Linked DNA regions of Homo sapiens: region 1 is linked to region 2. The links come from fine-mapping of genetic effects on gene expression. Tissue or cell type: whole blood. Region 2 holds a variant in brackets; the other region holds the start of a gene. All regions are shown on one strand. Distances are from middle to middle.

Region 1 (4,000 bases), 64 kb before region 2:
ACTATAGTAGTTTTATACTATTATAGTATTAATATGTCCTTATTAGGTAAAAAAAAGACATTTTTCTGACTGTTCATATTGATAAATGTAGAAAATAACCTAAATGTCAAATATACAAAAGGTTAAACTAAGATATACTTAAAAGGTAGAGTACATCATTAGCATAGGGACAATATTGCCACATGGAAAGACAGGAAATTTTCAATGCAATAAACAAGATATATGATGTAATTTCAACAATATTAAAAAGACCTATGTACTTTGAAAAAGTAGGAAGTAAACTCTAAATACTATAAACATGCCCTTATTTTTAACCTATGAAGTATTTTAACTGAATTAAAATTCAATTCAACTAAAAAAGTTAAAAAGTCCTTTCTTGGTCCTCCTCCCCTCTAATTTCATGAACTAGCATATGAACGCCCCCTTTATTTCATCTCGGTCTTACCTTCCCTGCTGGGTTCTCAAACACCTAAAGATTTCGGCTTTTCTTTGCCCCATTCCTCTCTTTACAGAGCCACATTCATAGGTACTTGATACTGCTAAATAAACTAATTTCCCCTAAACTAGTTTATAAATAACTTAGTTTATAATAAGTTTATAAACTAAACGCAGAGATTCCTCTTTCGAGCAACTAGACATCAAGGGTAGAGAAGACAAACCCAGAAGAGTTAAGCATTCACTGATGTATCAAATGAATCTCTAAATGTCAGGAGCTGTTAGAGGAGCTGGAGATTCCAAGATTAATAAGACACCTTTTGGCTACTCATCTTAAAGAAAGAGTTGTGAAAATACTTACTATTAATAATTATTAAAAGAACAGGTCAGGCTCAGTGGCTCACACCTGTAATCCCAACACTTTGGCAGGGAGAGGCGGGATCACTTGAGCCCAGGAGCTTGAGACTAGCCTAGGCAACACAGTGAGACCTCATCTCTACAAAAACTAGAAAAATTAGCCAGGCCTGGTGGTGCACGCCTGTAGTCGTAGCTGCTGGGGAGGCTGAGCCCGGGAGGTCAAGGCTGGCTGCCGTGAACCGTGACTGAGCCACTACACTCCAGCCTGGGCGACAGCGACCTTATCTTTAAAAAAAAAAAAAAAAAAAAAAAAGCAGCAGCCCACTCAAAACACTAAGAGGGCGTTCCCAAACTTTATGATGTAAACTCTTAAGTACTGAACCAAGAGTTACGGAAGTACAAAGTAATGCATTATTGTAATCATGTTTGTCTTCCCCAAACATGCGCGCCTCGCAAGAAAGAAGTGTCTTACTCAACTTTTTAGGCACTGCTCCTATGTAACAGCAAGCACACAATATTTGCTGAATAAATGAAGGGACAAACTGGACTCTGTCCTTGAAGAAGAGGACTACATGTGAAAGAAAACGCTATTCACTTCAAGGACATGAAAAAAGTATCAGGATGATTCAAATTAGAGATGATCCTCAGCTGGCATCTTTAACTGAAAGAAATGGGCATGGGACTCGACCCTGTGACAGTTAATCAACCTGTGTTGAATAATGAAAGAATCAGCGCCTCAGCTGAGACCCGTTCCGGGTTCGCCGCAGGTGGCAATGGAGCTGGGTGCCGTCTCCGCCCACCCGGAACAGGAGAGCTGGGCTGCCAGAATGCAACGAGGCGAGCGTTTCAGGTCGGGGGAAAGGTTCTGTGAGGAAACCACGCTCGCCTCTGGGGCGTTTCCTGCAGCTGGCACCCTTCTCCCGCCACCTCTATGGCTGCAGGGAGGCCTCGGCGTGAGCCCTTGGGGCTCAGTCAGCCGAGCCTAGGCTCTGGACTCCCCCAACGGCCCAACTCTCCCTCAGCACTTACTGCCAGAAGGGGCCCTCCAGGCAGCAGCGACCCCCGCCCCGGCTGCCAGGCGTCAAAGAAAGCACTTGGAGGCTGCCCGCAGCCGTCAGGCTCCCCAGAGCCTCCGGCTGTGTGCGCAGCTGCGCCCGGGAGCCGAGCTGCCCCATCGCCTCGGCGGGGACTGGCACCAACAGCATCGGTAGAACCCGCCCCATGGCCGCGGTGCCCCAGCTACCGCCGGCGGAAGCAGCACTCGCGACCCCTTCCTCTGCAGCCATCTTGGCCCGGCGGTTACTTCCGGTCACTTTCGCCGGAACCTGACTGCGTCGTGGGCATGCGCGGTGTACGTAGCGGCTCCCGCTCGGCCTCGTGACTCCCGCGGAGACCTCTCGGCTGTCTCCGGTCGATTCCATTCGTTTCCTGTGGGGGGCAGTACCAGCCTCTCTAGCAAAGCCACATCTGCCCTGACGCCAGTCCCACTCTGCTTAACTGCTCTGGCATGCTTGAAGGCCTAGCTTAGCGTAGCAGGCCGTTGCAGCCGTTCTCGCTCTGTGGCATTGCTCTTTGCCTTCTTGGTCCAGCTGCCTCCAGCTCCCTTGGAACCCAGTTCCTGCCTCTTTTCTTCGCTTTTCTTATTGTGCTGTTCGCTTACAGGCTCTGGGGTGGTGCCATTTCCTTGGTAGCATGGACCGTCTTACAGTGTGGATCCATAGTAAGGGTGTTGACCCGAAATTTGAAGTCAAATAATATCCATTGTAACAGTCAGAGAGACGGGGTAAGTAAGGGGTGGAGATGGTAGAGAGCTCCTGTCTGTTTTCTCAGGGAAGTATGATCCAAGATCAAGAGAAGGAGAGGAGCAAAGAGTTTGAGGTGAGAAGAGGGGTTGAATAGGTATTTTGGTAAAGTCTCCTAAAAGACAACTGTACCTTCTTAACACATCTTCCACATTCAGAACATTTCAGCATAAATGTAACCTCTATTGACAGGCCTCCCCAAGCCATTCAACCTAAGGTCCCTTCTACTGCAGTCTCTCACCTAGTTTTGTTTTTAATCATAGTATTTATCACTACTTGATATTTTCTGCCAGTTCCTGTCCAATAAGAATGTAAACTTCAAAAGAGCAAGGACTTTGTTGCTCACCACTGTCCTGGCTAGTACCTAAAACAGTGCATGTTTCATGAAAGGTACTCCCGCATTTGTTGATCAATGCATGACCTTATTTGTCAAAATAAAAGCAAACTTTTTTTTTCTTTTGAGATGGAGTCTCGCTTTGTCACTCAGGCTGGAGTGCAGTGGCGGGATCTCGGCTCACTGCAACCTCCGCCTCCTGGGCTCAAGCAATTCTGCCTCAGCCTTCCCAGTAGCTGGGATTACAGGCGCACGCCACACCCAGCTAAATTTTTGTATTTTAGTAGAGACGGGGTTTCACCATGTTGGCCAGGCTGGTTTCGAATTCCTGACCTCCGGTGATTTACCTGTCCCAGCCTGGAAGTGCTAAGATTACAGACGTGAGCCACCGTGCCCAGCTGAAACCAAACGTTTTCTATCACAAGGGAGATATATTCAACCTTCTAAGCTTAGCTGGGGCTGTGTTCTTTCTGTAAAAAATGGCAACGTTAAAGCAATTTCTAAGGTTACACTTGTGTTAGCTACAACAAAGCCTTGTCCCTTATAATCAGGACAGTCTTCTCATGCCTGTAAATCCCAGCACTTTGGGAGGCCAAGTTGGGAGGATCACTGGAGCCCACCCTTGCCAACATAGGGAGACCCTTGTCTCTACAAAAAAAATCAAAAAAAATTTTTTTTGAGAGTTTTGCTCTTGTTGTCCAGGCTGGAGTGCAATGGCACAGTCTTGGCTCACTGCAACCTCTAACCTCTGCCTCCTGGGTTCAAGCGATTCCCCTGCCTCAGCCTCCGAGTAGCTGGGATTACAGGCGTGTGCCACCATGCCTGGCTGATTTTGTATTTTTAGTAGAGACGCGGTTTCTTCACGTTGGTCAGGCTGTTCTCAAACTCCCGACCCTCAGGTGATCTGCCCACCTCGGCCTCCCAGAGTGCTGGGATTACAGGCATGAGCCACTGCACCTGGCCAAAAAAAATTTTTTTTTAATATTAGCTGGGTGTGGTGTCACATGCCTATAATCCAAGCTACTCAGAAGACTGAGGTGGGAGGATCACTTGAGCCTGGAGGTCAATGCTG
Region 2 (4,350 bases):
AGACTGGAGGATCGCATGAGCCCAGGAGTTTGAGACCAGCCTGGGCAACATAGTGAGTCCTCCTCTCTACAAAATCAAACAAACAAAAATTAGCTGGGTGTGGTAGCACACACCTGTGGTCCCAGCTACTTGGAAGGCGGAGGCAGGAGGATTGTTTGAACCCAGGAGGAGTTTAAGAGCAGTCTGGGCAATATAGTGAGACCTCATATCTGTCTATCTATGTATCTATGTATCTATGTATCTATGTATCTATCTATCTATCTATCTATCTAAAATAAATTAAATTAAAAAATAAAAAATAATGAGGCAAAGAAAAGAAAGTTAATCCTCAATATAACAGTATTAAGAAGTAGGGCATTTAAGAGGTGACTGGGTCATGAGGGCTCCTTCATGAATGGATTAATGGATTAATGGGTTATCCTGAGAATGGGTCTGTTATAAAAGCCAGTTTCGCTCTTTCTCTTGTGCCCCTCTAAATCTTTATCTTTAGCCATGTTATGATGCCTCTCTGATATCTTTACCCATGTTATGATGCGGAACAAAGCCCTCACCCAAAGCAAACCAGATACAGCCCCTCAATGTTGAACTTCTCAGCCTCTTCCATACATTTTTCTTCCTTTCTTTTTTTTGAGATAGGATCTTGCTCTGCCATTGTGCCATTGCAGCCTCAAACTCTTGGGCTCAAGTGATCCTGCTGCTTCAGCATCCTGAGTAGCGGGGCTTACAGATGCACACCCCCATGCATCACTAATTTTTTTTTTTTTTTTTGAGATGGAGTCTTGCTAGGTCACCCAGGCTGGAGTGCAGTGGTGCGATCTCGGCTCACTGCAACCTCTGCCTCCTGGGTTCACACCATTCTCCTGCCTCAGCCTCCCAAGTAGCTGGGACTACAGGTGCCTGCCACCACGCCAGGTTAATTTTTTGTATTTTTAGTAGAGACAGGGTTTCACCGTGTTAGCCAGGATGGTCTCGATCTCCTGACCTCATGATCCACCCATCTTGGCCTCCCAAAGTGCTGGGATTACAGGCATGAACCACTGCGCCCGGCCGCATCGCTAGTTTTTAAAAACTTTTTGTAGAGACAGATTCTTACTATGTTGCCAAGGCTGGTCTCAAACTCCTGGCCTCAAGAGATCCTCCAGTCTTCGGCCTCCCAAAAAGATGGGATTACAGGCATGAGCCACCTCACCTGGCCTCTTTTTTTTGTATATTACCTGATCTCAGGTATTCTGCTATAGCAACAGAAAGACGAAGACAGAATCCTTAGCTGTCTGCAAGTGTGCATGCCATTTTCATCATCTGAAGAGTCAGCGAGTGTCTTAGGTGGAGTCTTGCAAAAGCAGGCCCTGAGCCAAAGATTTGGATGCAAATGACTTGTTAAGAAAGGGCTCTTCGAGACCGTGCCATTGCACTCCAGCCCGGGCAAGAAGAGTGAAACTCTGTTTCAAAAAAAAAAAAGTGGGGGGCTCCTAGGAAAAGAACAGTAAAGGAGTGGGGGATGAAGGACAGGGAATGGGAAGAAGCCAAGCGAGAGCATGATTTCCGAAGTCCTACACTCAGCCTGATCACACGGGAAGCTTTAGAACAAAGAACACACCTCAGAGTTTTTCCTGCCTCAACACAAAGGAGCTGGGCTTTGGTGCTCTTCATCAGCCTGTCTTTGGCTATCCAGGGTTGTGGAACGAGGTGAAACATAAAACTCCGAGGTACTTC[C/T]GGCTCCCTCCAGTGTCTGAGGGTAATCTGCAGGACTGAGGGTAATTGCAGATGCTAGCTGTTAGCAGCAAACTATGCAAAAGCTGAGGACTGGCTTATAAAGCCAGATCTGGGTGAGTCATGTTTCCTGTCAACATCCTCTGCTGGGCCCATAACACATGCAACCCCAAACTTCCATTACAAGTTCAAAGTTTCTAAGGGGATAGCATTACAGTGTGTATGATATTGGACTCAGACCTGAGTTTGAATCCTAATTCCACAAAAGAAATTGGAAAAGAGTCATATTGCTGACTTGACCCTTTGTCACCATATCCATAAAATGGGATAATTATTCCTATATCATAAATTTACTTATTTATTCACTTAGTCATTTGTTAAATAAATATGGAGTGTCTACTTTGTGCCGGGCACTCTTTTTAGGGTGGTTCTGAGAAGGGGATGGCAATGAGAAGGGCTCTCTAAGATGCAAGACTCCAGGCAACTGCTTTTACTTCCAGTGGTTCTTTATTTTCACAGCTCATTAGAGCAAATTACCACAGCAGGGAGATACAGGTTGAGTATCCCTTATCCGAAAAGCCTGGCACCAGAAGTGTTTTAAATTTTGGATTTTTTTTTGATTTTTGGAATATTTGTTAATTATCAGTTGAGCATCTCTAATGTGAAAATCTAAAATCCAAAATGCCCCAGTGACCCTTTCCTTTGAGCATCATGTTGGTGCTCAAAAAGTTTGAGATGTTGGAGCATTTAGGATTTCAGATTTTTGGATTAAGGATACTCATTTTGTACAATGGAAAACTTCTTGGCACTAATCTGATGAAAGAAGAAACTACGGGAGAATCCCTTTCCCTAAAAGGCTTTCAGTAACAAGATGGCCCTGACTCATTCTGGACAGTTCCTCCAAAGGTAGGCCTACAGGTAGAACTCTTTTCTGGCAGCATAGGGGTTTTCCAGAATGAAGGTGTATTTTTTTTTTACTGAGGCCAGGAAAGGTGAAGAGAATGAAGGGTTCCTAGTGACGATGCAGCAACCAAGTCATTTATGTAATGGAGCCTTATCTGACAGATTTCTAGGATAGAAACTCAGTATCCAAGCTCAGGCTTGGCAGACTGAGGTGGGCACCGTCCCCAGGATTGCAGTGTGGATTAGAGGTTTCAACCCCAATCATATTCAACAGCTCCCTTTCCCCCAACAACCCCTTTTTATAACAATTGTTTTGTGGTGATTCTTTTACTAATATGATCATGAAAATTAAGTAATTTAGCTTGTGAATGCTCTAGCTTGGCTGCACTGCTGGTATAAAGAAGTGCCAGACACTTGCAACTGCCTAGGATCTCTGTGAACCAGCGGCATGGAAGACTGAGAGGCACGCTGGATTGATGGCTCAGATTCAAGTATGGTATTGCAGGTTCTGGTGTAATTTTCTAAAATGGCGAAAATCTCTAGGTAAAACTCCAAAAATAAAAAACCAACATACATCTTCCTTTGAGTTACCTGGTAGTTATATTCCTGGAAAATTCAGTGTATATGAGCCTGAGGTAGTAGATGGTCAATAAATACTCAAGAAATAAAAAAATAAAAAAATATAAAAATATAAAACACATTTCTTACATGTCCTTGGTGCTTGTAAGCCCAGATTATATGCAGGCTTTTTTTTGGACGGAGTCTCTGTTGCCCAGGCTGGAGTGAAGTGGCGAGATCTGGGCTCACTGCAACCTCCACCTCCTGGGTTCAAGCGATCCTCCTGCCTCAGCCTCCTGAGTAGCTGGGATTACAGGCACGCGCCACCACCCTCAGCTGATCTTTGTATTTTTAGTAGAGAAGGGGTTTCACCATGTTGGCCAGGCTGATGTAGAACTCCTGACCTCAAGTGATCCGCCCACCTCGGCCTCCCAAAGTGTTGGGATTACAGGCGTGAGTCACAGCGCCCGGCTGCTTTTTTATACATTAAGTGTGCTTGCAGAGGACTGCGACCTCTGGCCCTCGGCCTCTTAATAAATACTCCAAGTGACTTCATTGGAACAACCACTGAGAATCACTTATCTAGAGAGTGGGAAGTTGCTGATCTCATCACTGCATGGGGTGGGGTGAGGGAAGCAACCCTGCCCTTCCCCTTTCTCGGAAAGCAGCTGGCTTTGAAGAAAGAGAAACCAGGACGGGAAAGTCCTGATTTCTAATCTGAAACAGCGCTTTTTGTCCAGAGACCGGTGACGAGCGACCCTGGGCTCGGGTTTTGATTGGGCAGTTCGGAAACTGTAAAAGCGAATTAAAAGGGTGACAAGCTAGTGTTTTAGCCTATCCAGTTCCGGGAGTTTGCACGCAGACGCTCTGCTTCGTGACCTTGGCTCTGCTCTGTGGGCGCCGCCCCCAGCCTGGGCGCGTCCATCGTCGAGTACCTTCTCCTCTGCCTCCCCCTCCCTCTGCTTCTATCTCTCTCCAATTGCCCTCCCTGGCCTGCGGCCGCCCGGTCCTCCTTCCCAGCCCAGTGCAGCCAGGCACCCGGGTTCGGCTTGCTCAGGTCTCTGTCCGGGACTGGGAAGCCACGGAGGGCCGGGAAAGTGGCACACTCCTGGAGCTCAAGCTTCCTACTCTCTCATCGCTGAATAACTACCGGGCAGGACTGGGTGGAACAGACAGCAT

Evidence for each region. PIP is the estimated chance that this variant, and not a neighbour inherited with it, causes the effect.
Region 1: it holds the start of SPG11, and the variant in region 2 is fine-mapped to the expression of SPG11 in whole blood (TOPMed, PIP 0.98).

What each region holds. Positions count from the first base shown.
Region 1 is chr15:44,661,570-44,665,569 of GRCh38, forward strand. It overlaps SPG11 (SPG11 vesicle trafficking associated, spatacsin), which reads right to left and starts at 2,093. Exons shown (of 40, transcript NM_025137.4): 1 at 1,822-2,093. The coding sequence starts at 2,078. RefSeq lists enhancers at 1,188-1,327, 1,437-2,393, 1,868-2,347, 2,388-2,557.
Region 2 is chr15:44,724,994-44,729,343 of GRCh38, forward strand. It overlaps the pseudogene RNF4BP. Among named protein-coding and RNA genes, the nearest start is that of MIR10393, 9.3 kb to the left of the region's middle. RefSeq lists enhancers at 1,598-1,892, 2,916-3,903, 3,904-4,350. The variant C/T (reference allele first, on the strand shown) is at 1,714.